Homo sapiens: one gene and its partners. The protein of the gene in region 3 purifies or fractionates together with the protein of the main gene of each other region. This does not show direct contact. Each region holds a gene or a part of one and is shown on either strand. Other genes may lie near its edges. The genes, in order: FARS2, CHERP, ZNF346 and KRR1.

The links.
Region 1: the proteins of ZNF346 (region 3) and FARS2 purify together in Homo sapiens (co-immunoprecipitation; 2 studies listed by BioGRID and IntAct, with this or other methods). This does not show direct contact.
Region 2: the proteins of ZNF346 (region 3) and CHERP purify together in Homo sapiens (co-immunoprecipitation; 2 studies listed by BioGRID and IntAct, with this or other methods). This does not show direct contact.
Region 4: the proteins of ZNF346 (region 3) and KRR1 purify together in Homo sapiens (affinity purification with mass spectrometry; 3 studies listed by BioGRID and IntAct, with this or other methods). This does not show direct contact.

What each region holds. Positions count from the first base shown.
Region 1 is NC_000006.12:5,362,500-5,369,531, reverse strand, and holds part of FARS2 (phenylalanine--tRNA ligase, mitochondrial), read right to left. Parts: intron 983-7,032; 5' UTR 962-982; coding exon 350-961; intron 1-349. UniProt on the Homo sapiens protein: Is responsible for the charging of tRNA(Phe) with phenylalanine in mitochondrial translation.
Region 2 is NC_000019.10:16,525,415-16,532,446, forward strand, and holds part of CHERP (calcium homeostasis endoplasmic reticulum protein), read right to left. Parts: intron 5,467-7,032; coding exon 5,355-5,466; intron 5,261-5,354; coding exon 5,171-5,260; intron 4,487-5,170; coding exon 4,234-4,486; intron 2,842-4,233; coding exon 2,666-2,841; intron 264-2,665; coding exon 1-263. UniProt on the Homo sapiens protein: Involved in calcium homeostasis, growth and proliferation.
Region 3 is NC_000005.10:177,018,061-177,025,703, reverse strand, and holds the start of ZNF346 (zinc finger protein 346), read right to left. Parts: upstream 3,009-7,643; 5' UTR 2,966-3,008; coding exon 2,791-2,965; intron 2,545-2,790; coding exon of another isoform or gene 2,470-2,544; intron 1,998-2,469; exon of another isoform or gene 1,985-1,997; coding exon of another isoform or gene 1,930-1,984; intron 1-1,929.
Region 4 is NC_000012.12:75,490,362-75,494,640, forward strand, and holds the end of KRR1 (KRR1 small subunit processome component homolog), read right to left. Parts: 3' UTR 502-4,279; downstream 1-501. Other genes in the region: GLIPR1 (glioma pathogenesis-related protein 1 precursor), read left to right, coding at 45-157. UniProt on the Homo sapiens protein: Part of the small subunit (SSU) processome, first precursor of the small eukaryotic ribosomal subunit.

The DNA of each region.
Region 1 (7,032 bases), on a different chromosome or scaffold from region 3:
TCCATGTTGCACCTTCAGCCATCCTGGATTAAAGGTGAATTTGAGCCACAGACTATTCTCCATTCATAAGAAGTAACCCAGAGAATGGCGGGTCAGTATTGAGAGAAAGGATAAGGACAGACAACTGGAAACTAAGGCTTACCAATTTCTGTAGTTACTAACACAACAAAGCGGTCAAAAAGTACTGGGGCACACCTATACACAAGATGTCATTAAGTATGGATGATTCACTAAGGCAAAATAAGGCAAGCAAGGATGACTATGCTGGTCTCATCGAGCTAAATGTTAGTGACCTCAACATAAAATGTCTATGACATCCTTCAGCGATGAGAAACATCTCAAGACTCACCTCATGCTTGGAGAAGAGCCGCACGGCCTCCAGCTGGTGGAAAATAGGGTAGTGCTGGGAGTCGATCTGGTCACGCCTGTAGACATCACCCACCACCAGGAAGGCATCCAGTCCCGCGTGCAGCAAGTCCCACTGGTGTGCAGACGTGTGCGCTCTCAGCATGTGAGTCCGATTCAGGTAATAGTTGTCCCCCTTCTTCCTGCTGGGGTGATCAGCTGGGATGAGCAGGCTGTCAAAGTTCTGCCAGGTCGTGACCACTGGAGAAAGGTTGTCGTAGACCGAGAACAACGGGGTCCCAAAGCGGCCCACATACTGCTTGTAGAAGTGCTCCTTCACCCTCTCCTTGATCAGCCACAGAGGGTGATGCTGCTGGTTGTGCAGGTTCCTGCCAACTCTGGTGAGGACCTTCCGGGTGAGGTTGCTGTGGTCGTCCTGAGGGTAGGATTTGCCCAGCAGCTCCACCACACTGCCTGGAGCTCTTTGGGTGGCACACTCTGCTGCAGGAGGCCTCGATCCCCAGGCCTGGTGCTGATGGCCTCTGGAGATGTGACTGGCCTTACTCACCAGGTAGACATATGCATGGGCACCTCTCCTGAGAGCTGAGCCCACCATTGTAGAAACTTCTCACAGGTTCTGGAAAGAGCACACAGGCAAAGCACAAGTCAGGTGTCACTCTGTGGAAAGCAAGTGTGTTCTTTGCATCTCCCACCAGCTCCCTCTTGTCCTACTGGCATGTTTCCCCCACTACGACCTCCACACAGCTGAAAGAGCCAATTAAAGAAATCTGACAGACATGTGATACTTAATACACTAAATGAAAAGATTCCTGGAAGTCACTTTTATATCCCTAATCTCTAGTTGTCCTTCCTTTGTCATTCAGATCCTTGGCTTTGTAGAAAACCTCGTTTATTATGTTATCATGTCCTGAACTCGTGATGTGGAAAAAAACTGTAAACACGACAACCTTTACATTATAGAACCAAAAAACTTCAGAGAGATCCCCTAAAATACAGAACTTAATTGGACCCTATTAAGGGTCCCACTAATAAAGGAAGCAAATGATTAGACAGAGGCTTCCGAAGGAGAGTGGAAGAGAAGAGATTTAAGAGCCATCCTTCACATTTCTGCCGACCATCCTCATAACTACAGAGTTCTCTTTATCTTTGACATAGCATAACTTCTGTATTACTTCACTAGATCACAAAGTGACATTACTAATTTTTTTAAAAAGTTTTAAACAAAATACACCACTTTAGATTGTGGTTAACTTTAATATTTTAAAGATAAAATAGAAAATCTCAGGAAATATTGTACAAAGTGATAGACTATATCAATGGACAGCTGTAAATGCAAATCTTCTCACATCTGGTCATGTCACTTAAACTTAATACCTTTGTGGCATCCTCTCAATTACACCTTTGGCAAAAGGGCAAATTTCTACTACACACCCACAATTAACCAGAAACAGGACTAAACTTGTTGGGGAAGAGTGACAGAGCAGCCAGAAGGCAGAGCACTGACCTAGATTTTTAAGTAAATAAAATGCCAAACTTTACAGCTGAAAGTCACCTCAGCTGTCATCTAGTATAGGCGGTTCAAGTCACGGATGAGGTGAGAAGGACCTAAGTATAACTGGCAAAACTCTAAGGTATTGAAAGAGTTCAATAAGACAACCGCAAAGGGCTGTGAACCACTCACACAGTGTCTTCTTCCCACTGCCACAGAAGCCAGTTTTAAACTCACTCAGGGATCCCAATAAGGAGAGTCTTGAGATGTCACATCCCATTGTTCACAAATAATTTACATTCACAAACTTAAATTATAAAAATCCATCTTCTAAAATGTGGAATTCTTCCCTACCGGGCTATTTTAAAGCATACAACTATGTGGCTGTTTTACTTCAAGGGCCGTGCAATCATACCAAGAAAATATGTAACTTCATGATATGAAGCTGCATTAGCAAAGAATTATATTGTTCCAAGTCACTATCAAAAGCACAGTCTGTCCCTGGACAACACAATCCACCTGACTCCAAATTGGAACTGAGGAAATCTAGCTGCAAGTTGAATGGCTGTGCTTGTGTGTGATTGCTTCTTAGAAGCTGTGCACAGCACCTTTGTCTGAGACTGTCATCATGGGAGACATTTTCAAAGATACCCAGGAACTCTCTGGTTTTATTCACTTATGGCGTTATTTTGTCAGAGTTGTTTCAAAAGGGCTTTTGGCTGAGCTTCAACTGAAATGTCTTCCCATCTAGTGTTCAGTGACTTGTCACTGCAGTGGATATGAATTTTAAACATGCATATGCAGCCTTACACATCTTGGCACAAAATCAAACTGTTAGGTTATTAGCTACCTAGCTCAGCACCCTTGCCAAAACACAAGAAAAGCTTTCTTCCTCCCAAAGGCATATGTGTTAGACAAAGTTCAGAATTGTTCTCGGAAAGGTGCTTCTGATCCAGTTATTTGTGGGCTGCTGTCGATGCTTTTCCTTCCCAGTTTCCAGCTCTTCACACATCCAAACCCACACTTGGGTTCCATTCCCAGGGATGTGCCCCAGCCTCGTGTCCCTTCCTTGCTCTCCTCACGCAACCCCCAGCTTGCCGATGAAAGTTTGAGGTTCTTGCCCTGGTTTTCAGGCCTTCTATCTATCTGCTCAGCCCTGCTTACATTCTCCACTGTCATTCACCCCACACAGAAAAGTATCTGTCCTTTCTGTTACTATCTCTAACAGAGAGAGATGGATGACTAGGAGAGCCTTCCCACTTCTATCTGAGAAGTGACTTCCTTTCCTTCTACCTCTATCGAATTTCTCTATAAGAAATATATCATCTGGAAATACATAAGAGACCCAGGAGGATAAGACCAACGACATTCATACTTCTATTAATACATTGTTCTTCCATTTCATCCCTTCAACAGTTCTGTGATGTAAGTATTGTTCGTACCACTTTACCAACAAAGAATATAAAGCTCAAAAAGATCACGTAACTAGCATAAATTCATATGCCTAGCTAGCCATGAGACAGTTCAGAATTCTTGGCAATTCAAATATAGCTGACCCTCAAACAACATGGATTGAACTGTGCAGATCCACTTACATGCAGATTCTTTTCAGTAACAGTTACACTGAGTGTGCCTGCCCTTCCTGCCTCCCCTTCCGCCTCCCCTATCTCTTCTACCTCTGCCACCCCTGAGAAGGCAAGACCAACCCCTCCTCTTCCTCTTCAGCCTACTCAACATGAAGATAAGAATAAAGATCTTTAGGATGATCTACTTCCACTTAATAAATAGTAAATACATTTTCTTTCCTCATGATTTTCTTAATAACATTTTCTTTTCTCTAGTTTATTGTAATACAGTATATAATGCCTATAACATACAAAATATGTGTTAATCAATTGTTTATGTTATCAGTAAAGCCTCCAGTTAACAATTAATAGTTAAGTTAGGGGAAGTCAAAAGGTATACAGGAATTTTCAACTGACTGAGGGAGGGTAATCAGTTGTCCAGGGGTCAAGTGCATTTCTCAGTAGGGTGTGGTGGCTCACGCCTATGATCCTAACACTCTGGAAGGCCAAGGCGAAAGGATCACTTGGGCCCAGGAGTTTGAGAGCAGCCTGGGCAACATGACAAGACCCTATCTCTACAAAAAAAAAAAAAAAAAAAAAATTTTATTTAATAAATTAGCCGGGTATGGTGGCACACACCTGCAGTCCCAGCTACTGGGGAGCTAAGGCAGGAGGACTGCATGAACCCAGGAGTTCAGGCTTCAGTAAGCCAGGATTGCACCACTGCACTCCAGCTTGGGTGACAGAGTGAGACTCTGCCTCACTAAAAAAAAAAAAAAAAAAAAAAAAAAAAAGAAAGTATACTTCTCAATCAAAGGTCCAAGATTGTTAAGTTCAAATGGTATCTCTGCAAGGACCTCCCTTAACTTCTATTTTATCTAATTGAGATTATACATCAATGTGTTTTTAAATACATAAATAAATGCATGAATAAGTAAATCCAATAAAACACATTAGCTTAGATAGTAAAAATGAAATAAGTATTTACAGACCCAAGGGCCAAATCTGCCCACAGTAGTCTGTTTGGGGTTTTTTTTTTTGGCTTTGGCTTTTTTTTGTTTCTGAGACAGGGTCTTACTCTGTCACCCAGGCTGGAGTGCAGTGGGATGATCATGGCTTACTGGAGCATCAACCTCCCAGACTCAAGTGATCCTCCTGTCTCAGGCTCCAGTGGCTCCCTGCCCCAGAGATAGCTAGGACTACAGGTGCAAGCCACTATGCCCGGCTAGCTTTTGTATTTTTTGTAGAGATGAGGTTTCGCCACATTGCCCAGGCTGGTCTCAAACTCCTGCCTCAAGTGAGCTGCCCACCTCAGCCTCCCAAAGTGCTGGGATTACAGGCTTAAGCCATCGTGCCTTGCCCATAGTCTGTTTTTACAAATAAAGTTTGTTGGAACACAGCAACAGCCATTTCTTGATTTATCATTTGCCATGGCTTTCTTGCTATCAAGGTAAGATTGAATAGCTGCTATAGAGATTGTGTTGCTCACAAAGCCTAAATACTCACTCTCTGGTCTGTTATAGAGTTTGCTGAGCCCTGTTTTAGCTTAACCTACTGAAAAATTTTTCTACACTATTAATAAAATCTTCCTAGTCACAAATATATGTAGATTATAAAGTCACAAAAAAGGAGCAAGAATACAAATGTGGACGTGAAGTATGTTAGCACTGGTACAAAAGAAACAATCAGACCAACTATAAGAAGAGAAAATACAATATAATGGGCAATAGGCCAGACTTCGCAGAGATACTAATGTTGGTTTGATCCTAGGTTGATCTCTTAGGTGCCATGTATCATCCTTAGAAACGTTATTTGACCCTTCTGGCCTCAAGGTTCTCATCTGTAAAACAGAGAAATATAATACTTATCTCATAATGAAAAGATTATACTAGATCATGTTCATCAGCTAATTAACTCATTGCCCAGTGTGTAACGGGTAAGATGAGCTGAATTCAGGGTTAAAAGTGACCCAGAGATTTCTAGAGATCGGGTAACGGATGAACTAATAAAGTCATTCACTGACACAGAGAACTCAGAATGGATTTTTGTTGTTTGTTCAGATCATCTTTTGTAGAGGGAAACAGATTTGGACAATGGAAGTTCAGTATGAATGAGATAGCCACATTACAATTTCTGTAAGGCAATTCGAGTTATATTATAGTTTGGAAATGAGGTAAGACATTAATCCTGGAAATGTAGACCTTGGAGGTAATTTGCATAGACGTAAGAGTTAATATCACAAGCGTATATAAGAATCCATGGGAGGCTAAGAGCAAGATATAAGTGGGCAAAAGATAGAAGAATACTTGGAACTTATCATATTTAAGGGAAGGGGATGTAAGGAGTAAGACAGAGGGGACGTAAAGGGTGCCACAGCACAGAAGTCAGGGGAAAAGACATCTAGAAGGAAACGGGCCTGTTTCCTGGACCCAAATACCACTCAATGTGCAATGTTTAGCATGCCGTATTATTACTACCTGCTGTTGTCTGTATTCCTACTAGCCTGTGTGGTTCTTGAGAGTAGAACACACAAACACATATATATACACATACTCTTTCTCTCCTCTCTCTCTTATATTTATCATCGTATGCCCATAATCTAGCACTACATGTGATGCTGGGTGGAAGACGCGGGAAGAAGAGAAATAGGAAGAAAAAGAAAAGAATGGAAGGAAATTGGTCAGCAAAAACAAAACAAAGAAGGCTGCCTCTTTGGAAGGGGCAGTAAAGAACTATTTAAAAACTCAATAGAGTGAAGAGACAACTCACAGAATGGGAAAAAGTATTTACAAGCCATGTATCTGGGAAAAAGCTAATGTCCAAAATACATAAGGAACTCACGCAACTCAACAGCAAGAAAGCAAATAACTTAAAAATGGGCAAAGGGGCTGGGCGAGGTGGCTCATGCCTGTAATCCCAGCACTTTGGGAGGCCGAGGTGGGTGGAGCATGAGGGCAGGAGAACGAGACCATCCTGGCTAACACGGTGAAACCCCATCTCTACTAAAAATATAAAAAATTAGCCAAGCATGGTGGCGGGCACCTGTAGTCCCAGCTACTTGGGAGGCTGAGGCAGGAGAATGGTGTGAACCCAGGAGGCAGAGCTTGCAGTGGGCCGAGATCGCGCCACTGCACTCCAGCCTGGGCGACAGAGTGAGACTCCATGTCAAAAAAAAAAAAAAAAAGAAAGAAAGAAAAATGGGCAAAGGATCTGAATAAAGATTTCTGAAAAGAAGACATATAAATGGTCAATAGGTATGTGAAAAAAAATCCTCAAAATCACTAGTCATCAGAGAAATGCAAATCAAAAGCACAATGAGATAGATACACTTTACACCTGTTAGAACCGCTATTACCAAAAAGAAAAGGTAAGTGTTGGTGAGGATGTGGAGAAAAAGGAACCACTGTACACTGTTGGTGGGAATTTAGAGGAGTATAACCATTATGGGAAATAGTATGGAGGTTCAAAAAAATTTAAAAATAGAACTATTAACATATGATCCAGCAATCCCACTTCTGTGTATATAACACAGGAAATGAAATCAGCATGTCAAAGAGACATCTGCACCCCCTTGTTCACTGCAGCATTATTCACAATGGCCAAGATATGGGA
Region 2 (7,032 bases), on a different chromosome or scaffold from region 3:
CGGAAGTGTGGGGGCCGCTGCATGCGGAAGGGTGGCTCGCGCTGGCCCCCGCCCCAGGGCGGCTGCTCGTGCTGGCTGTTCCAGGGGCCCTCGAACTGGCTGTTCCAGGCGGCGTCGGGCTGGTTGTTCCAGGGCGCGTCGCGCTGGCCGTTCCAGCCGGGGTCACCGCGCTGCTCGCCCCACATGCCCTCATGGCTGTTGTTCCAGGGGGGGCAGTGGGGTGGGCCGCCCTGGTGGTGCGGGTAGGGTGGCTGCTCTGGCGGCTGCAAGGGAAGGGACAGGCTTGAGCCCTGCGTGGTCTAGGCCCTAGTGCTCGGCAGCATCACAGCGCTCGGCAGCATCACAGCGCTGGCTCAGACCATGGAGGCGCTGCCCTGGCCACGTTGAGGCGCCTCCTACGCTGACGCCTGCGAGGATGCTGGGCACCTGCTCTCAGCCCGCACCACATGCTGCTGCAAAATGACCAGACACCCAACCGCTGCACCCGCATCTCAGTCCCGGGGCTGTTTCTGCCGCTGGGGCGCGCTGCACCCGCACACAGGCCGCCCGCGCCACAAGGTGCTCCCCGCTACCACTGCCAGACAAACGCCAGCTCCCTCGCCCCTCAGGGGCAGGTGCAGAGGCACAGACGGTATCGCTTCTCAGGGCACCCCAGGCACCCATGGGGCGGGGCTCACTCTGACACCCCCTGCCCTGCCTCACTCCCCCTCTCCCCAAAAGCCGTCTGCTGGGCAGATACACTGCGGCACACACATCCTTGTCCTGGGGTCTGCTTCTGGGGACTTTCAAACCAAGCCAGCATCTTCCTGTAGACTGAAGACGGGAGGCTCTTCCCTCATCAGCTTCTGCTCTGGAGACTTAAAGCCAGGAGGGCAAACTCCAGCTTGGGCAGGGGAGGGGAGGAGCACAGAGGCCAATGAGAAGGCCGGTGTCTAGGGTCACAGCTGGGTAACTGCGCTGACCCCTACTAAGGGGAGGCTGGCCCAGGCTGCCACATTCACCAGGCTTCCAAGAGAAGCCAGAGAGCCAGATATTAAATATCAGGAACTACTTGTTTTTCTTTTTCTTAATTTGAGACAGTCTCGCTCTGTTGCCCAGGCTGGAGTGCAGTGGCGCGATCTTGGCTCACTGCAACTTCCACCTCCCGGGTTCAGGTGATTCTCCTGCCTCAGCTTCTCGAGTAGCTGGGATTATAGGCGCCTGGCACCATGCCCGGCTATTTTTTTATCTTTAGTAGAGGCGAGGTTTCACCACGTTGGCCAGGCTGGTCTCAAACTCCTGACCTCAAATGATCTGCCCACCTCAGCCTCCCAAAGTGTGGGATTACAGGCGTTAGCCACCACGCCCAGCCTTGCTTTTCTTTTTTAGAGACAAGGTCTCACTCTGTCACCCAGGCTGGAATGCAGTGGCATGACCATAGCTCAATGAAGCCTGAAGTCCTGGCTGAACCAATCTTCCTGCCTCAGACCACTGTGTAGCTGGGACGACAGGTGTGCACCACCATGCCAGCTTATTTTTATTCTTTGTAGAGATGGAGTCTTGCCTTGTTGCCCAGGCTGGTCCCAAACTCCTGGCCTCAAGCAATCTTCCTGCCTTGAGAAATTACTTTTAAACGTGTTAAGACCCCACATGGCCAAGTCAAGCAGGCCAGGCTGCTGTTTCTCAGTGTGGACTGCAGGATGCACTGCTGGCCTAGCGGGCACCCTCAGTGAGGGGCGTGCCCATTGTCCTGAGCCCAACCCTCTGGTCTGCAAAAAGACTGAGCCTGGAGACACTAAGGGCCTGTTTCCACACCTACAAAACAGGGACAAGAACTGCCCCCCCCAGCAGAGGGTACCTGCAAAACAGCCACCACCATCTGGCTCCTGGCCAGCACTTGGAGGTGGGAGCTGTCTTTATGGGGGTGTCCAATCTTTTGTGAGGTTCAATTTCGTGTCCTGAAGCTGGGGATGGGAGGCTCAAAGCCACAACCACCAAGTCTCAGTCCAGAGCCAGTCTCCTTGCCATCCTTACACCTGTCCCTGCAGACAGGGAGTCACCTGGAAAGGCCACGCTGCGAAGCCAACCAGGCCCCACGGGCAAGGGGGAAAGTCACGCCCTGGAAGACCCGGGGCTGTGCCTCAGTGCTGAAAGTGGACCCAGCACGCTGCAGGGCATTTCACAGCCATGCTGTGCCACATAAGGTGGCCCCTGCCTTGGCCCAGGGGTATGTGACCCATAGCAAAGCTGCATCTGAGGCCTCCCAGGGGCAACACGGCTGACATTTCTGACATTCCCCCTTTCCTTACAAAAGCACCTTGTTCTTTCCAGGATGACAAAACACTGACACTCAACTAGCTTAACCTGTTTAAGGAGGACAGGAAACAGAACACCCTGCCGTGCCTTGCAGCGTTAAACTCCCCTGCACTCGCAGGACAATGGTGATCTATACTACAGAGAAGCCCAAACCATCAAAGCTCGGGGAAGGGACGTGAAGACCTGTCACTTGACCTGTCCCGGAGCCACAGGAAGACAGGGCTGTCACTAACCCAGCATAAGCTCTGCCACAGAATATCCCTCATTGTTCCCCAGTAAGCCACTCAACGCCCACCAACTGGCATAGGGGAGGCTACCCCATCAGGCCAAGTGTGCCCCATCTGCTCCCACCCCAGGTTCCAATCAATACCTGCTGCTGGCCCCAAGGAGCCACGGGGTGAGGCTGGTCAAACCAAGGGGGCTTGTTTGGTGGGATCTGGTCGTGTGGCCCGGGGCCCCGGGGGCCGGCAGCTGCAGGATCCTGGACCCCTCCTGGAGCTTCGTACTCTGAAGAGCCAGGCATCTGGATGGGAGGCTTGCTGTCATCTAAATCCAAGTGACAGGCAGTTAGAGCAGGCCTGGCAGCAGGAGGCGCTGTCTCCTCTCCACACTACCCCAGAGCAAACCAGGCTACCGCTTTTAGTGCCCAGTGGATGATCGCTTCAGGACCCACTAAAACCATGACTATCACTGGCTTCCAGGAAGGGGACAGGGCGAGGGGAGGTTTCGACCTTGAACATGACACACATCTGTCCTTTTCAAAGCTTTACAAGAAACAGGCCTCACTTCTGCCTTCTTGGTTTGCTGAAGAATTTCTATCCACACTGAATTTGATTAGACATCTTTACTGTATCTAATTAAAAGGTCATTTCCCCACATCTGTTATTTTCTATTCTATACAATCCTCATATTCCTACAACAAATCTTCTTTGATCAGAATGTAATTTTAAAATCCTTTGCTAGGCCGGGTGCGGTGGCTCACGCCTGTAATCCCAGCACTTTGGGAGGCTGAGGTGGGTGGATCCCAAGGTCAGGAGATCGAGACCATCCTGGCTAACACGGTGAAACCCCGTCTCTACTAAAAATACAAAAAAGTAGCTGGGCATGGTTGCGTGCGCCTGTAGTCCTAGCTACTCAGGAGGCTGAGGTAGGAGAATGGCGTGAACCCAGGAAGCGGAGCTTGCAGTGAGCTGAGATCACGCCACTGCACTCCAGCCTGGGCGACAGAGCAAGACTCCATCTCAAAAAAAAATCAAAAACAAAATCCTTTGCTAGATTCTGCTAAGATTTCCTTCAGTATTTCCGTGTCTTTTTCAGAAGTGACACTAGATTGTATTTTCTGAGACAGGGTCTCGCTTTGTTACCCAGGCTGGAGTGCAGTGGTGTAAATGCAGCTCACTGCAGCCTCAATCTCATGGGCTCAAGTGATCCTCCCACCTCAGCCCCCAAGTAGCTGGGACGACAGGTGAGCACCATTTTTCTATTTTTAGTAGAGACGGGGTTTCACCATGTTGCCCAGGCTAATCTCAAACTCCTGGGCTCAAGCGATCTGCCCATCTTGGCCTCCCAAAGTGCTGGGATTACAAGCGTAAGCCACCATGCCTAGCCAATTATATTTTCAGTCTGTGCATTGTCCTTCCTGCCTGATGTAATAGTTACCCTAGTCTTGGGGAATGATCTGGGTACCTTTCCTCTATTTCTTTTCTCTGGGAACAGGAAACAGATCTTCTGCTGTTCAGGAATGGGATGGTTGTAGTTTTACTCTAGGATCACCTGGCTCGTGCTTGTAAATGGATGAAAACCTGGGCCTAGGAGCAGGCCTGGGACGAGGGAACAAGAACTGAGTCTGAGGGTGGCAGACTGCTTTCTGACTACACTCGGTGCCCAGCCTCTGGGGGCTGTTTCCTGGGGGCAGGCTGAGCTGAGGGAGCCCCGTACCAGGCTGGGTGGTGGGCGGGATGGCAGGGGCAGGTGCTGGGGCCGGGGGTGGAGCAGGCGGTGGAGGCGTGGCCTTGACTTCAGCCTCCATCTGCGGCATCTGGAGCTGCTGCTGCTGCTGTTGCTGCTGCTGCTGCTGCTGGGCCAGGCTGGTGACAAACTCCTCGTGCTGCGTCTTGAGGGTCTGGATCTGCTGCTGGAAGGCCAGCTGCACCGGCTGGACCACTGAGGAGTACTCGTTGATGAGGGTGGCCTGAGAGAGAGAAGAGCACCCGCTGCTCAGTATGCGGCCTTGGGGCTCGCTGCCTGGCGCCAGAGGACAAACGCCTGGAAAGCAGCAGAGCCTGGGGGACCTGGGGCAGGTGGACAGGGAACCGTCACGTGAAACAGCCAACACAGTCTGGGCAATCAGTGTGCGCTGGGATCTGGCCAGAGATTTGGGGATGAGGATGTTCGCTGCAGCGTGTTTTACGACTCCCTGATAACAGAACGAGCAACGACAGCCGTGTCCTGGCCGCTTCGTGGCTGCTCAGCGAACACTGCCCACCAACATTCTGGGACACGCTCATGGGCTCTGCCTCCCACTCGCCATGTGGCTCTCAGCAAGAGGGGCTGCCACAGCCTAAGCCACGTCTGGGCTTCCTCATGCTTCCACCACACCGGAACATGCCTGACCACCAGAGCAAATGGGCCATGTGCAATGACTCCGAAAGGCCGCCTGGTTCTAGTGTTCCAGGAAAGTCAGGGAGACACACCTAAGGCCTGGGAAATGTCACCTGGGACTCTCTGGTCAACACACACTGGCTACTCCTAGCACAGGCAGGGGACATGGGCTCTCTGGCTGCTGGGGTGGCAGCTGCTGTCCCCACACTCCCAAACCCTCCTGGGGAACCCGCCCCAGCTCTAGGGTGAGGTGTGGGTGGGCAGGGACACTCACCTGGTACTGACCAAGCCCCAGGGCTGGGCTCTGTAGCTGCTGAATGATGGAGTCATCGAAGTAGCCGTTTTTCTCCCAGAGCTGCAGGAGCTGGCGGTGGGAGGAGAGAGAGGCCGGGTCAGTGGGGAGGGGAAAGGCCTGTGTGTCCCGGTCTTGCCCAACCCCCGGCCCGGGGCCCACGCACCCGGGCGATCTTCTGCTGCTTGTCTTCCTCCACGGCCAAGAAGCTGGTGCAGTAGATGGGCACCACGACCTTCTGCAGGGCGGCCAGCAGCTCCCGGGCCTGCTTGCGCTGGCTGTGAGGGAGAGACTTTCCGCGCGTCAGGGCCCTGGGGCGGGACCCGGCCACGCGCCCGTTACCATCGCGGCTCCAGCCTCAGCGCCCTCTGCCTTCTCGGGAATCGGGTCCCCAACCCGGTCAGGGCGATGGCTGGGCTCCCACGAGACCTGTGCTGGTGCCTGGGCTCGAGGAAGGGACAGATGGAAAAACAGCAAGCAGGGGAGGGAGAGAACGTGGCCTGGGGCCGTTCTGAGCAAGGCCTTTTGGTCCAGTCCCCTTGATAGGAAATAACCTTCCCTCCTTCCCTCTTGGGTGGCGCTGCGGGTGAAGGGATATGGGCCGGCGGGAGCCCCTGCCTGTGTATGATGGGCGGGATGGGACTGCTGCGGAGTGGGGGTCTTGTCCTTGTCACTCACTATGCACAAGGAAACCTCGGCCCAGGCCAGGCCTCTTGGGAGAAGGAGGGAGGGTGCCCAGTCCCTCAGGAACCTAGAACACTTTAGAAGAGTGACCGGATGCCCAGCGGGGGGAGGCGCCGGGCCCATGTCCTCTCAGGGCTGCTGTGCAGTGCTGCACAGGACACTGTGCATACCTGGCCTGGGAGGCCCCTGCCGCTGCGCAGGGAGATGGCTGCCCCTGGGGAGGGACGCAAGACAGGAGGGGAGCAGCTGGAAGCCCCTCAGCCCTCAGCTTGCCGCAGGGGGCTCAGGGGAGCAAGGGCCTGGGCTGGGCGAGCAGCACTTGGCTTCGGACAGAGTAGAGCTAGAGAGGCGCGTGGCTGGAGAATGCGGGAAACTGTGCATCCGTGCAAGGCACCCGACTCAGAGGCAGGGAGAAATGGAGGCATGAGGAGGAGCAGAAGGGCAGAGCTGGTGCCGAGCCGCAACTCACTTCCCAGCAGGAGAGAAACAGGGACTGAGGTGGGGAGGCAAGAGGGACTCAGGCAGTGCTGCATGTGATAGATGGGGCGAGATGGGTGCTGGCAGCCTGGCCCACTGTAGAGGCACACGAGGCGCCAGGCCAGGACTGCTGCCCGCTAGGCTCAGTAGCAATGCTTGTCTCCTCCCGCACGTGCGGGCCTTTGGCCTGGGGTTCTATTGTTTTTTTTTTCTTTTTTGCTAATTTTTGTGAGAAGGGCCCCAGTGACCCTGTAGAAGGAAATACCCACCCAACCTTGGGGAGGGTGGAGACAGCAACAGTGGGAAGGGTGAGGGCTGGGTGGGGACAGAGGGTCGGCAGATGTGGCTCTGTTGAAGCCTGAGAGATGGGTCAGGGCTGGAGAAGGGGATCCCAAAGGAGGGTCCTGATGGCTGAGCAAAGTCAGGTGACCGCGTGTGTGTGCGTGCAAATCAGTGACGAGGGCAGGAGACAGACACAGAGGCCAAGGAGGCCGTGGCTGAGAAGGCAACAAGGAGACGCCAAGAAGCTGCCCCATGAGAGGAAGGAGTGCAGGGGACAGTGGCCCCCAGGAGACAGCAATGTGACAGGTGAGGCCGGGGTCTAGGGGAGAGGACAGGGCATGCAGCGAAGGTGCACAGGACACCTAGACCTCGCAGTCCTGGAGACAGAAGCCTGGTGGCTC
Region 3 (7,643 bases):
GCAAATGATGTGAATAGATATTTCACCAAAGATCTACAAATGGGTAGTCAGCCCCTGAAAAGTTGCTCAGTATTATCAGTCTTTAGGAAACCACAATGAGATATCACTACATGCCCACTAGAATGCCTATAATCAAAAAAGACAAGTGTTGTCAAGGTTATAGAAAAAGCGAAACCCTCATACACTGATGGCAGAAATATAAAAGGTGAAGCCATTTTGGAAAACAGTTTGGCAGTTCTCCAAAATGTCAGAGTTACGATATGACCCAGCAATTCCACTCTTAGGGATATACTCAAGAAATGAAATGTATGTTCACACAAAAACTTGGGCATGAATGTTCGCAGCAGCACTATTCACAAAAACTCCAAACTGGAAACAATCCAAATGTCTAGAACTAATGAATGGATTAATAGAATGTGTTATATTCATTCAATGGAATTCTATTTAGCAATAAAAAGGAATGAAGTACTAATACACACCATGACTTGGCTGAACTTCAAAAACATGCTGAGAGAAGCCAAACTCAAAAGACTACCCAAGACAGAAAACAGGTCACTGGTTGCCTAGGGCAGGAGGTGGGAGTGGGGATTTAATATAAATGAGCTCAAAGGAACTAATTGGGGTGACGGAAATGTTCTAAAAGTGGACTGTGGTAATGGCTATACAACTCTGTACACTGGCTAACAATCACTGGCGATATGCTTACAATGGGTGACTTGTATGGTATATAAATTGTAACTCACATGAAGGTGCTAAGAGTAGAAAAAGGGTGAGTAGAACTTAATGTTGTAGGTGTCTACCTAGATTTCACATAAATGTGGGAGAAGTGAGAACAGGGAAATGAAATGGGTCATAACAGTGCCACTATACACTCATATACACATAGCAGACAGTTCACTTTTCAGAGCACAGTGGTTTTCTGCTTCAAGATCCAGGGCAAAGGTCACTTTCTTCTTGTGCACCTCCAACTCTTAAAACATTCCTCAGCACTGCATCCTTTACATTACACTGGAACTGTTTTGGTGTCTGCTTCCTGGACTAGACTGCAAGCCTTTCCAGGGCAAGGGCAGTATCTTCCTCTGATACTCCAGCTCTGAAGCTCAACCAGTTCCGGGTCCAGAGCAGGCATCAGTGAGTGTTTGTCAAGTTAATGAAAGGAAAATTGGGGTAGGGGAGGAAACTACCAAACAAGTGTGAAAGTAGGAGAGCCGGGTGCGGTGGCTCATGCCTGTAATCCCAGCACTTTGGGAGGTCAAGGCGGGCAGATCACTTGAGGTCAGGAGTTCGAGAACAGCCTGGCCAACATGGTGAAACCCCATCTCTACTAAAAATACAAAAATCAGCTGAGCGTCATGGCAGCAGCCTGTAATCCCAGCTACTCCGGAGGCTGAGGCAGTATAGAATTGCTTGAACCCAGGAGGCGGAGGTTGCAGTGTGATTGTGCCACTGCACTCCAACCTGGGTGACAGAGTGAGACTCTCTCAAAAAAAAAAAAAAAAAAAAGGAGAGAGGGCCCCAGAAATAGTGTGTGTGTGTGTGTGTGTGTATACATAAAATACTTACAAGTGTATATAAAAATATATATACAGATTTATGTGTGTATATATTATATATATACATTTATGTGTGTGTATATTATATATACGCATACACACACACCATTTCTGGGGCCCTGTCTCCTTCTTTTTTATATATAATATACATTATATATATATATAAACTTAGGAGACAGGCTAGACTTGTTTTTAAATTGGAGAAGTATATACCAGGGTATAGGTCTGTGTACCTTCCTTAGATATGGTCAAAATTTCAATTTTATCCAATTTTATCCAGGGCAGTCAGTTCACAAATAGCATATTAAACTTTCGAAGACAAGTCTGCTCAGCAAGCAAACAAATCACTGGAGAAATCTGATTTCCCTCCAGATACCTGACAAGGTTAGCAGAGAAGCCCAGATAGAGTTCTTGTACATCTGGGTTAGCATCAAGCAGCTGGCTCTGTAAAGGACAGTGAAGGGAGTCACACAAGCAGGTCAGGACAGCTCTTTTCCATCCTTCTCTTTCTTTCATCCCATCTTACCCAGTCTCAGGTCAAGTGCAGAGCAAGCTGGGGCGCTTCGGCCCAGGAGTGACCCCTAACGTGGCTTTGCATACACTGTTCTCAGCAACTTTGGGTCAAGTGTAGGACACAAAGAAGCTGGAGCCAAAGCAAACCCAGACCAGTTTCTCAGGCTCCTTGTCCCCACCTTAGAATAAGGGACCCAGCAAGTAGAGGCCAGAGAGCTAAAAACGGGTAAGCCAGGGCTCAGTCATCAAGACCAGGAGGAACCCAGGGGGTAAGGAGAAGGCCTTCCAGAGCCCTCGGAAGTGTGGGGCTTGAGAGAAGGGAGGCGAGAGGCCCTAGGAGGAAATCTGGAGATTGGGACGATGGGGAGTCAAGGAGTGGTGAGGGGCACTCGGCTTGGCTTACCGGGATGGCAAAGACTGTAGGTCTCCGACAGGACGAGTATAGGGATGACAGTCCTCGAATGTGGGAAAAACTGCGCTGTAGTGAATGATGAAGGAGGAGGAGGAAAACCCAGGGCCTGAGCGTGAGCGGCCCTTCACCCTCAGCGCGCTGGGGGCCCGATTCTTGGGGTGCCCGCGCCCGGATGGGGAGCACAAGTCTGGGGGTCCCGGGGCGCAGCACGCAAGGAGGCGGGCCAGGGGGTGTGACCGTCGGCGCTTCCGCAGTTCCCCGCGAGCCGCGCAGCGGGCGAGGGGCTTTCTGCCTCCAAAGCCCCCGACTCACCTTCCTCTCTACCCACCGGCTGGGCACCGGACACGGCTTCCCACAGGCGGCGCGCCCTCTCGCGGTCAAAGCGCACCCCGTCCGGCTCCTGGCCCTCCAGCAACTCCGAGCTGCTGTAAGGCCCGGCCGCTCCGCCGTCCGCGGCCTGCACCGTGGCCGGCGCGGGATACTCCATCTTCCCCGCAAACCCTCACCGGTAGAGAGCCTCTCAGGCGCCTAGGTATCGCGAGATTTGGTGGGTGGTACTTGGCCCAGCCAACAAATCTCGCGAGGTTTGGGCGCTGCACCCGCGCTGCCGTGCGGGACCCCGCGCTTATTTTGCTTTGCTACCTCTGGTACCTCAGAGCGTGTGCCGTGGATTCGGAAACCTGTCGCTGATTCCGCAGCAGTGACCCCCCCCTCCCGGAGAGGCTCGTGTGGTTTTGGCTCATGGCTCTCACCTTGCTCACGGTCAGCCCTTGATACTTTTCATTTCGTTCTCAAGGTCCCGTTATGTGGGAGTGTTTTCGCCATTTCATTCACAGGGAAACTGAGGCCCAGAACCTAAAAATGGTTAACTCAAGAGCTCGCTACTAGTAAGTAGTAGTACAGCTAAGGTTCCATATTACTGCTAATAATACATACTATTTGTTGAGTTCCAAGTGCCAGCTCCCAGCTCTGATCTTCCCCGAGACTCCGGACCTGTATACATCCAGTTGCCTCTTCCACAGTTCACTCGAATGGCTAATAGGCTTCTCCAATGTAGCTGTCAGACCCCAAATTTTATCTTCCAACCCCAGAGCTGCTCCTTCCCGTGTCTTTGGGAGCCACCATCTCTTGCCTAGGTTATTGTAGTAGCAACCTCACTGGCATTCCCAGCACAGCAGTTCCAGGAATCCTCTTATGACAAGTCAGATCATGACGCTTAGGTTCTCAAATCCTCCAACAGCTTCCCATCTCACTCTTAGTAAAAGCCAAAGTCCGGCCAGGCGCGGTGGCTCACGCCTGTAATCCCAGCACTTTGGGAGGCTAAGGGGGGGCGGATCACCTGAGGTCCGGAGTTCGAGACCAGCCTGACCAACATGGAGAAACCCCGTCTCTACTAAAAATACAAAATTAGACGGGTGTGGTGGCACATGCCTGTAATCCCATCTACTCGGAGGCTGAGCCAGGAGAATGGCTTGAACCCGGGAGGCAGAGGTTGCTGTGAGCCGAGCTGGCGCCATTGCACCCCAGCCTGGGCAACAAGAGCGAAACTCCGACTAAAAAAAAAAAAAGCCAAAGTCCTTACTTCGACCAACAAGGCCCTGTACAATCTGACTTCCCTTAACCTCCCTGATCCTGATGTGTTACTCAGTCCCCAACTCCTTAATTCCTGTCCCAGTTATCCAGGCCTCCTGGGGTGAATTTCTCTCATATATCTTCATGGCTCAGTCTCCCACTTCCTTCTCTGGCTACTCTATCTAAAATACCTTGTCTGGCTATCCCATCTAAAATGTTACTTTTCCACACACACTTCATGTCCTTCTTTCCTGCTTTATTTCTTTTATATTTTACCTTTTATCTTGCTTATTGTCTGTCTCCCGACTAGAAGGCAAGCCCCAGGAAGGCAGGGATTTTTGTCTCTTTTCTTTTCTTTCTTTTTTTAAATTGTTTTTGAGGCAGAGTTTTGCTCTGTCGCCAGGTTGGAGTGCAGTGACGCGATCTCGGCTCACTGCAGCTTCCGTCTCCCGGGTTCAAGCAATTCTCCAGCCTCAGCCTCCTGAGTAGCTGGGATTACAGGCACATGCCACGGCACCCAGCTAATTTTTATATTTTTGGTAGAGACGGGGTTTCACTATGTTAGCTAGGCTGATCTCAAACTCCTGATCTCATAATCTGCCTGCCTCGGGCTCCCAAAATGCTGAGATTACAGGCACATGCCACCTTGCGTAGCCTTTTGTCTCTTGTCATTGCACCTGAATCTCCAGCACTTTGAAATAGAACCTGGACCCTCCTAGGTATATACAAAACATTTGTTTAATGAATGAAGCTTTTAATATTACTAGCTTATTTCAACCTCATTTTTTCAAATACTTATGGAGAATTTACTATGAGCTAGATGATATTTTGAGCATGGAAATATAGTGGTGAACAAGACAGGGAAGCTGTAGTAAAGTATTTTTTATTGTAGTGGAGGAGAGTACAATAAGAAAGTTAACAGTAGGCCTGGCGCAGTGGCTCATGCCTGTAATCCAGCACTTTGGGAGGCCGAGGCAGGTGGATCACGAGGTCAGAAGATCAAGACCATCCTGGCTAACATGGTGAAACTCCGTTTCTACTAAAAATACAAAAAAATTAGCCGGGCGTGGTGGCGGGCGCCTGTAGTCCCAGCTACTCGGGAGGCTGAGGCAGGAGAATGGTGTGAACCCAGCAGGCGGAGCTTGCAGTGAGCCGAGATCGTGCCACTGCACTCCATCCTGGGCAACAGAGCGAGACTCCATCTCAAAAACAAAAAAAGTTAACAATAATAAGTGCTAAGGAGAAGATAAAACAGGATTGCATCTCAGGTGAATGATGTGTTAGGAACATTAATCAGGGTGGCATCAGGAGAAGCCTCTGGGAAAATGACATTTGAGCTAAGACCTGATTAATGAGAAGGCGTAGCCATGCAAAGAGCTGGGCAAGAGTGTTCTAGCAGAGAGAACAGCAGGTACAAAGGCCCTGAGGCAGGAGAGAGCATGATGTGTTGGAGGAACAGGAAAAACGACAGCATGGCTGGAGCCCAGTGAACAAGGAGGAAAGTAATATCAGAGGAGGCCAAAGAGAGACAGATATGAATTATTCTTGCTTGAGATCATATAGCTCATTGGTGTAATTTAGTCATTTATACTACAAGTATTTCCTTATTTATACTACAAATATTGAGCACCAGCACTATGTCAGGCCTCAGGCCCTAGAGCTTCCAAGCTTCCAATACAGTAGGTGACTGATGTTTGGCCAGTGTTTTACAATTTTTTTTTTTTTATAGACGGAGTCTCTGTTGCCCAGGCTGGAGTGCAGTGGCACCATCTCAGTTCACTGCAACCTCCACCTCCTGGGTTCAAGCAATTCTCCTGCCTCAGCCTCCCGAGTAGCTGGGATTACAGACATCCATCACTATACCCAGCTATGTTTTCTATTTTTAGTAGAGACGGGGTTTCATCTTGTTGGCCAGGCTGGTCTTGAACTCCTGGCCTCAGGTGATCTGCCCGCCTTGGCCTCCTAAAGTGCTGGGATTACAGGCATGAGCTACCACACCCAGCCTACAATTTTTTTTTTTTTTTTTCCGAGACAGGGTCTCACTAGTGCAGTGGTATGATCATAGCTCACTGTAACCTTGAACTCCCACACTCAAGTGATCCTCCAGCCTCAGCCTCCTGAGTAGCAAGGACTACAAGTGGACACCAACATGCCCAGCTAATTAAAAAAAATTTTTTTTTTGTAGAGACAGGGTTTCCCTATATTGCCCAGGCTGGTCTCAAACTCCTGAGCTCAAGCGATCCTCCTGCCTCAGCCTCCCAAAGTGCTGGGATTCCTGGTGTGAACCACACACCCAGCCCAGGGCAGTGCTTTACAGTTTGCAAAGCACCTACATTATAGCATTTAATCCTCAGGGTGGTTTCTGTGAGGGATTTCTTCATAAGTGATGATAAAGAAACAGACTAGGAAAGGTAAAGGTTTTGTGAAGATCACACAGCTAGTTAGGTACGAGCCCATGCTTGAACACTGGTCCTTAGATTGCAAATCTATGTCCTTTTGCCAAAACCAGATGACCAGCCTAAAAGTCAGTGACTGCACATTATTTATTCTCTTTTTATTTATTTATTTACTTTTAGAGACGGGGTCTCACTATGTTAGCCAGGATGGTCACAAACTACTTATTTATCTTAAGAGTTCTAGTTACTTACACTTGCATATAGCATAAGTTATTCAGGGATAATCCAAGGGATACAGGGGATTTTTGTCGAAGTCGCAGAACCCACAAGGATATTTTTAATACTATGTAACAAATACTGGGAGTGGAGTATATAAGTTGCTTTGCATATTATTGGAAAACAACCTCCAATCCAATTACATGCTCAAAATAATGTCCATTTATTCTCCAATGAGTGCTGTCAGGGTTCATCCCCTGTGCCATGGAGGCAGAGTCCTGAGCTACCCTGCTGAGGGTCTGAACAGCCTTCATTGTCACCAGTTTTCTATTTTGTCTTTGTGTAAGTGCTTCCAGGAATGGCCCAGGCCTGGACTCCTTGCTGGGACCTGGCAGTGCAGGTGATGCCTTATATTTGTTGGGCTGGCTTTTTATTTCCTCCTTGTGGAAAATGAGAACCATTTTCCAACACATCCTACTGTGTATTGTTGCCATGGGAGATGAACAATCCCAGGGAAATGACTTTGCTAAGGGACGGGAACTGGCTACTGTTCAGCATACATTTCAGTTGCTTAAATACTGACTCTGTATGTGCATGTGTGTGCATGTGCAAACGAAACTATAGTGCTTAAGATATAGTTCTTGCTCTCAAAGAGATTCAACTCTAGTTTTTCTTTCTTTTCTTTTTTTTTTGAGACAGAGTCTCACTCTGTCACCCAGGCTGGAGTGCAGTGGTGCGATCTCGGCTCACTGCAACCTCCGCCTCCCAGGTTCAAACAATTCTCCGCCTCAGCCTCCTAAGTAGCTAGGACTACAGGTGTGCACCACCACACCAAGCTAATTTTTGTATTTTTATTAGAGACAGGATTTTACCATGTTGGCCAGGCTGATCTTGAACTCCTGATCTCATGTGGTCTGACCACCTTGGCCTCCCAAAGTGCTGGGATTACCAGTGTGAGCCACCACGCCCAGCCTTAAACTC
Region 4 (4,279 bases), on a different chromosome or scaffold from region 3:
TATCTTATGGTTTTTCTCTGTTAAAAATCCTTATTTCCTTTCAGGTTGTTTGGGCAGATAGTTACAAAGTTGGCTGCGCAGTTCAATTTTGCCCTAAAGTTTCTGGCTTTGACGCTCTTTCCAATGGAGCACATTTTATATGCAACTACGGACCAGGGTAAGTGCCTGAATCAACCGGTTTATAGGAAACGCCCCCCCCCCCCCGCAAAAAAAAACAACAACAAAAAAAAACATTTTAGCAGTATTCCTCTTCATTATAGAAAATCTGGATAAAGTATAAATAAAAAATTAACATAACCTTTAATTCTTCTGCCCAGAGATATACTTAATTAACATTCTGGTACATTTTTCTTGGAGAGAGAGAGGGTGTGTGTGTGTGTGTACATCCTTTATATATACTACCTAAATACATACGCACATATTTTTAAGAGTGGTAAGACTAAAATATTCATCAGGGACATAAATTGTATATGGTAATACCACAAAGTGGAAGAACTGATGTTATATTTATTGGTTTATTAGAAACTTGGCAATTTTACACAATTTTCAAAGCAAAACAGATTCCTCAACTTATATAACCTATTTCATTTACTTTTGACAGTTGTTTTTAAAACAGATATAGTTCCCACTTTGGGAAACAGGGCAAACACCTTCCTCCTACTTTCTTTAAACTTACATATGTGTGCTTGTGTCATACACATATTTAGAAATCTGATCATACTGAAAATATACATTTTCTATTTTTCACTTAAAATTATGCTGTGAAAAATTTTCCTTTTCAAAATTTTAAGTGATTTTAATCATAAAAATGATAGATTGTTTATATAATGCTTACAATGCTCTCAGCACTGTTAAAGTGCTTCACATATATTAACTTAATCTTCACCAGAAGTTTATGAGATGGCTCCTATTACTACCCCTGTTTGGCAAATGAGAACAGCAAGGCACACACGGGTCAGCAACCTGCCCAAAGTTCTACAGTTAGTGACTATCACTGATGGACTTTGATCTGGCTGTCTAGCTCCAGAGTCCATGCTCTTGATGGTACCACCATCCTGTTGAAGAATTTAGATTGTTCACTATATTTTCATTTAATATATGATGAACAACCTCATATATGTATCTTCAGTCACTTCTATTTCCCTATAATTCCTTGAGATACTAGCACGTAAAGACTGTGACCATTTTTGTTTTAAGTACATATTGCCAAATTACATTCCACCATTATATCAATTTGTATTTCACCATCAGTACTAGGTATTATAATTTCTTAGTATTTTCTAATTTGATGGAAATGGCATTTCATTTGCTTTCTTTTGCATCTCTGTGATTACTAGTAATTATAAATTTCTTCACATAATTGTCTATTTATATTCCTTTTTCTGTGAATCATGTGGGCTGACCATTTTTCTACTAGATTTTCTTATTTATAAAAGTTTTTATATTTTAAAGGTTTTTAACCATTTGCAATATATATAATGATCTTTAATTTGTTGCCTTTGAATTTTTGGATTCCTGGAGATTGGCTGAAAGAAAGCCATTTCCCTGGTGTAATGTGCAGAAGACATGCTCGATACTCTGACTGAGTGCTGTAGGTGTGAAGGAGGAGACAAAGCGTCATTCTGAAGATGACAGCTTTGACTTAATATCTTAAGAGTTGGAAAATAAAGAAAACCCAGAAAAAACTAGACAAAGCCATAATTCAGTTAGTGGTAACTTTTCATGACTTTTTTTTTTTTTTTTGAGACAGGGTCTCTCACTCTGTCACCCAGGCTGGAGTACAGTGGCTCGCTTACGGTTCACTGCAGGCTTAACCTCCCAGGCTCAAGCAATCCTCCCAACTCAGCCTTCCTAGTACCTGAGACTACAGGCACATGCCACCATGCCCAGTTAATTTTTTTGTAGAGACAGAGTTTTGCCATATTGCCCAGGCTCATCTCCAACTCCTGGGCTAAAGTGATCCACCTGCCTCAGCCTCCCAGAGTGCTGGGATTATAGGCATGAGCCACTACACCCGGCCTCATATGACATTTTTAATGGTTAAGATACAATTAATTTACTGTGTGACCCTGGACAAGTTAACTCTGAATCTCAGTTTAACCTCCAATAGATCAGGGTTACAGGACCCATCACTTAGAGTAGCTATGAAAGTGACAAGAGAAGGCTTTGTAAAATACTAGGTATATATAATGCTTGGCAATAGTGAATGTTTTGTAAGTATTCATGATTTTTATTCATTAAAGTATAAATGTAAATTTTCCTGGTTTAGACTCACTTATCTTCAGAGTTATAAACAATATTAAATTATAAAACTTACAACCAAAGTTATAATGCTTCCATAAAGACTAACTTCAAATATTCATTTATTCAACAAATATTTGTTTTACTGAGCTCCAAAGGAGAACAGGGCAGTCTCTGTCTTTATGAGAGTAATATTTATGGGGCAAACAGATAATAAAAATACAAGTAAAATAACTGCATCATTATGGGGCAATTAAGGAACTATAAATAATACTGTAATAGAAACTATCAATAGGCAAGGCCCCTGTTTAGAATAATCAGGGAAGGGCTTCTTGTGTTATATTTAAGCTTAGGCATGAAGAATGAGAAGGAATCAGACATAAGAACTTCTGGAACAGCTGTCTAGTGGAGAAAAGAACAGCAAAACTTCCGTGAAGAAAAGTTTGGCAAGTTTAAACCACAGAGACTGGTGCCCTCGGTCTGCTAAACAGATGAAACGGGGGGAGGAAGGCAGTTGCAGATCTAGCGGGAACTTTTAGATCATGACAAAGTTTACATAAGAAGTCATTCAAGTATATTAAGCAGGGGAGCGATGAGACCTTTAAATTTGGACATCAGTCTGGATGGAAAATGGATTAGAGGAGCATAAAAGGTAAAACAGAGAGACCAGTTAGGAATGTCCTCATTTCCCTTTGCCCTCTGCCCTCTGAGGTATTATTTTCCTATACACAAAAAGTTGTAGGCCCCCATTCCACATAATCTTAGGAAGTCCAGTATCCTCCTCAATATTTCTGATACCTCAGAATGGGGTCTGGGATGCTTAATCTTCCAGTTGCCTGTAATACTCTCCTCTTCATTTCCCCTGGGCACCATGAACAAGGGTATGGTGTGTAACAGATCTTTACTCAGAGTGGATTAGTGGAGGAGAGGATTATAGCACAGAAGAGGAAATAACTTTGACCACAAGATAGTCAAGATAGTACCAGTGTGCTTAGGCCGTCACTGCCTTAGGGACCCTTACCCATATTTATCTTTTTCTTTAAAGATTTGTCTTCGGTCTTCCCCTGGGTCCCATAACCCCAACCCTCTTCTCTCTCAGGCTACCAGGGAAAACATTGAAATGTCCTGTTGCTTTATTGTGCTGAATACTTTAGGTCCCACAGTCTTAATGACTCCCATCTAGACAAATCCAGGCCTTTCCAGTAGCATGTTTCTCCCAAGATGAATACTACCATTTCCACAGACCTCACCGACTGTCTTGGTTTTTAGCTTATTTTTAAGTAGCATTTTTTACCTTTTCCTTTACAGTTTGGAATGCACAACTAAGTATCATAAATGACTTTATTAAAATCATTCTAGAACTTAAACCACTTAATACTGTGCTTATTAACAATGAAAGACATTCCAATGATTAATGTCTATTTTGGACATCTTTTGAAATTGCTATCAGAATTTCTACTATATTACCTTTTTTCCATGGTGTAGAGTAAGCAGAGGGCTAATTAAATTTCTGAAGCAACTTAAAATTTGGAGCAAAATGAGATAAGAACATAGATTTGGGGTTGGAAATAAGGTATCGTTATAAAGTTGTGTGTCTAAGGTGAGAGTTCTCAACTTTGGAGGTAATTGTAGAGTGCTGGGGAGAGGAGGACCATAAACTTTGATTAGAAAATAGTTTTATTTTTATTTTCACTAACCTCTATTAAAAATAACATTTCCTTTCATTATGAATGAAGACAACACTCCACCATCATATTAGCAATAAACGTGACTCTGACTTAGCAGTATCATCTTTGTAAATATCAGATATTTTCATACCACATTCCACTTGCTGCAGAGAACTCAAAATATAGTTTGTGTTCATCACTGCATTGAAACTAATAGCCCCCGGTAGATCTTAATAGAGAAGCACATATTACTTTATCACAAATCTTGTTTTAAACATTTTGATAACTATTTCAATTTAATTGGTTTCCTTTATAATCCTATGTATTTTATGCATTTAACAACAAACTATGTTGAGAAAGAGCCCATAGGC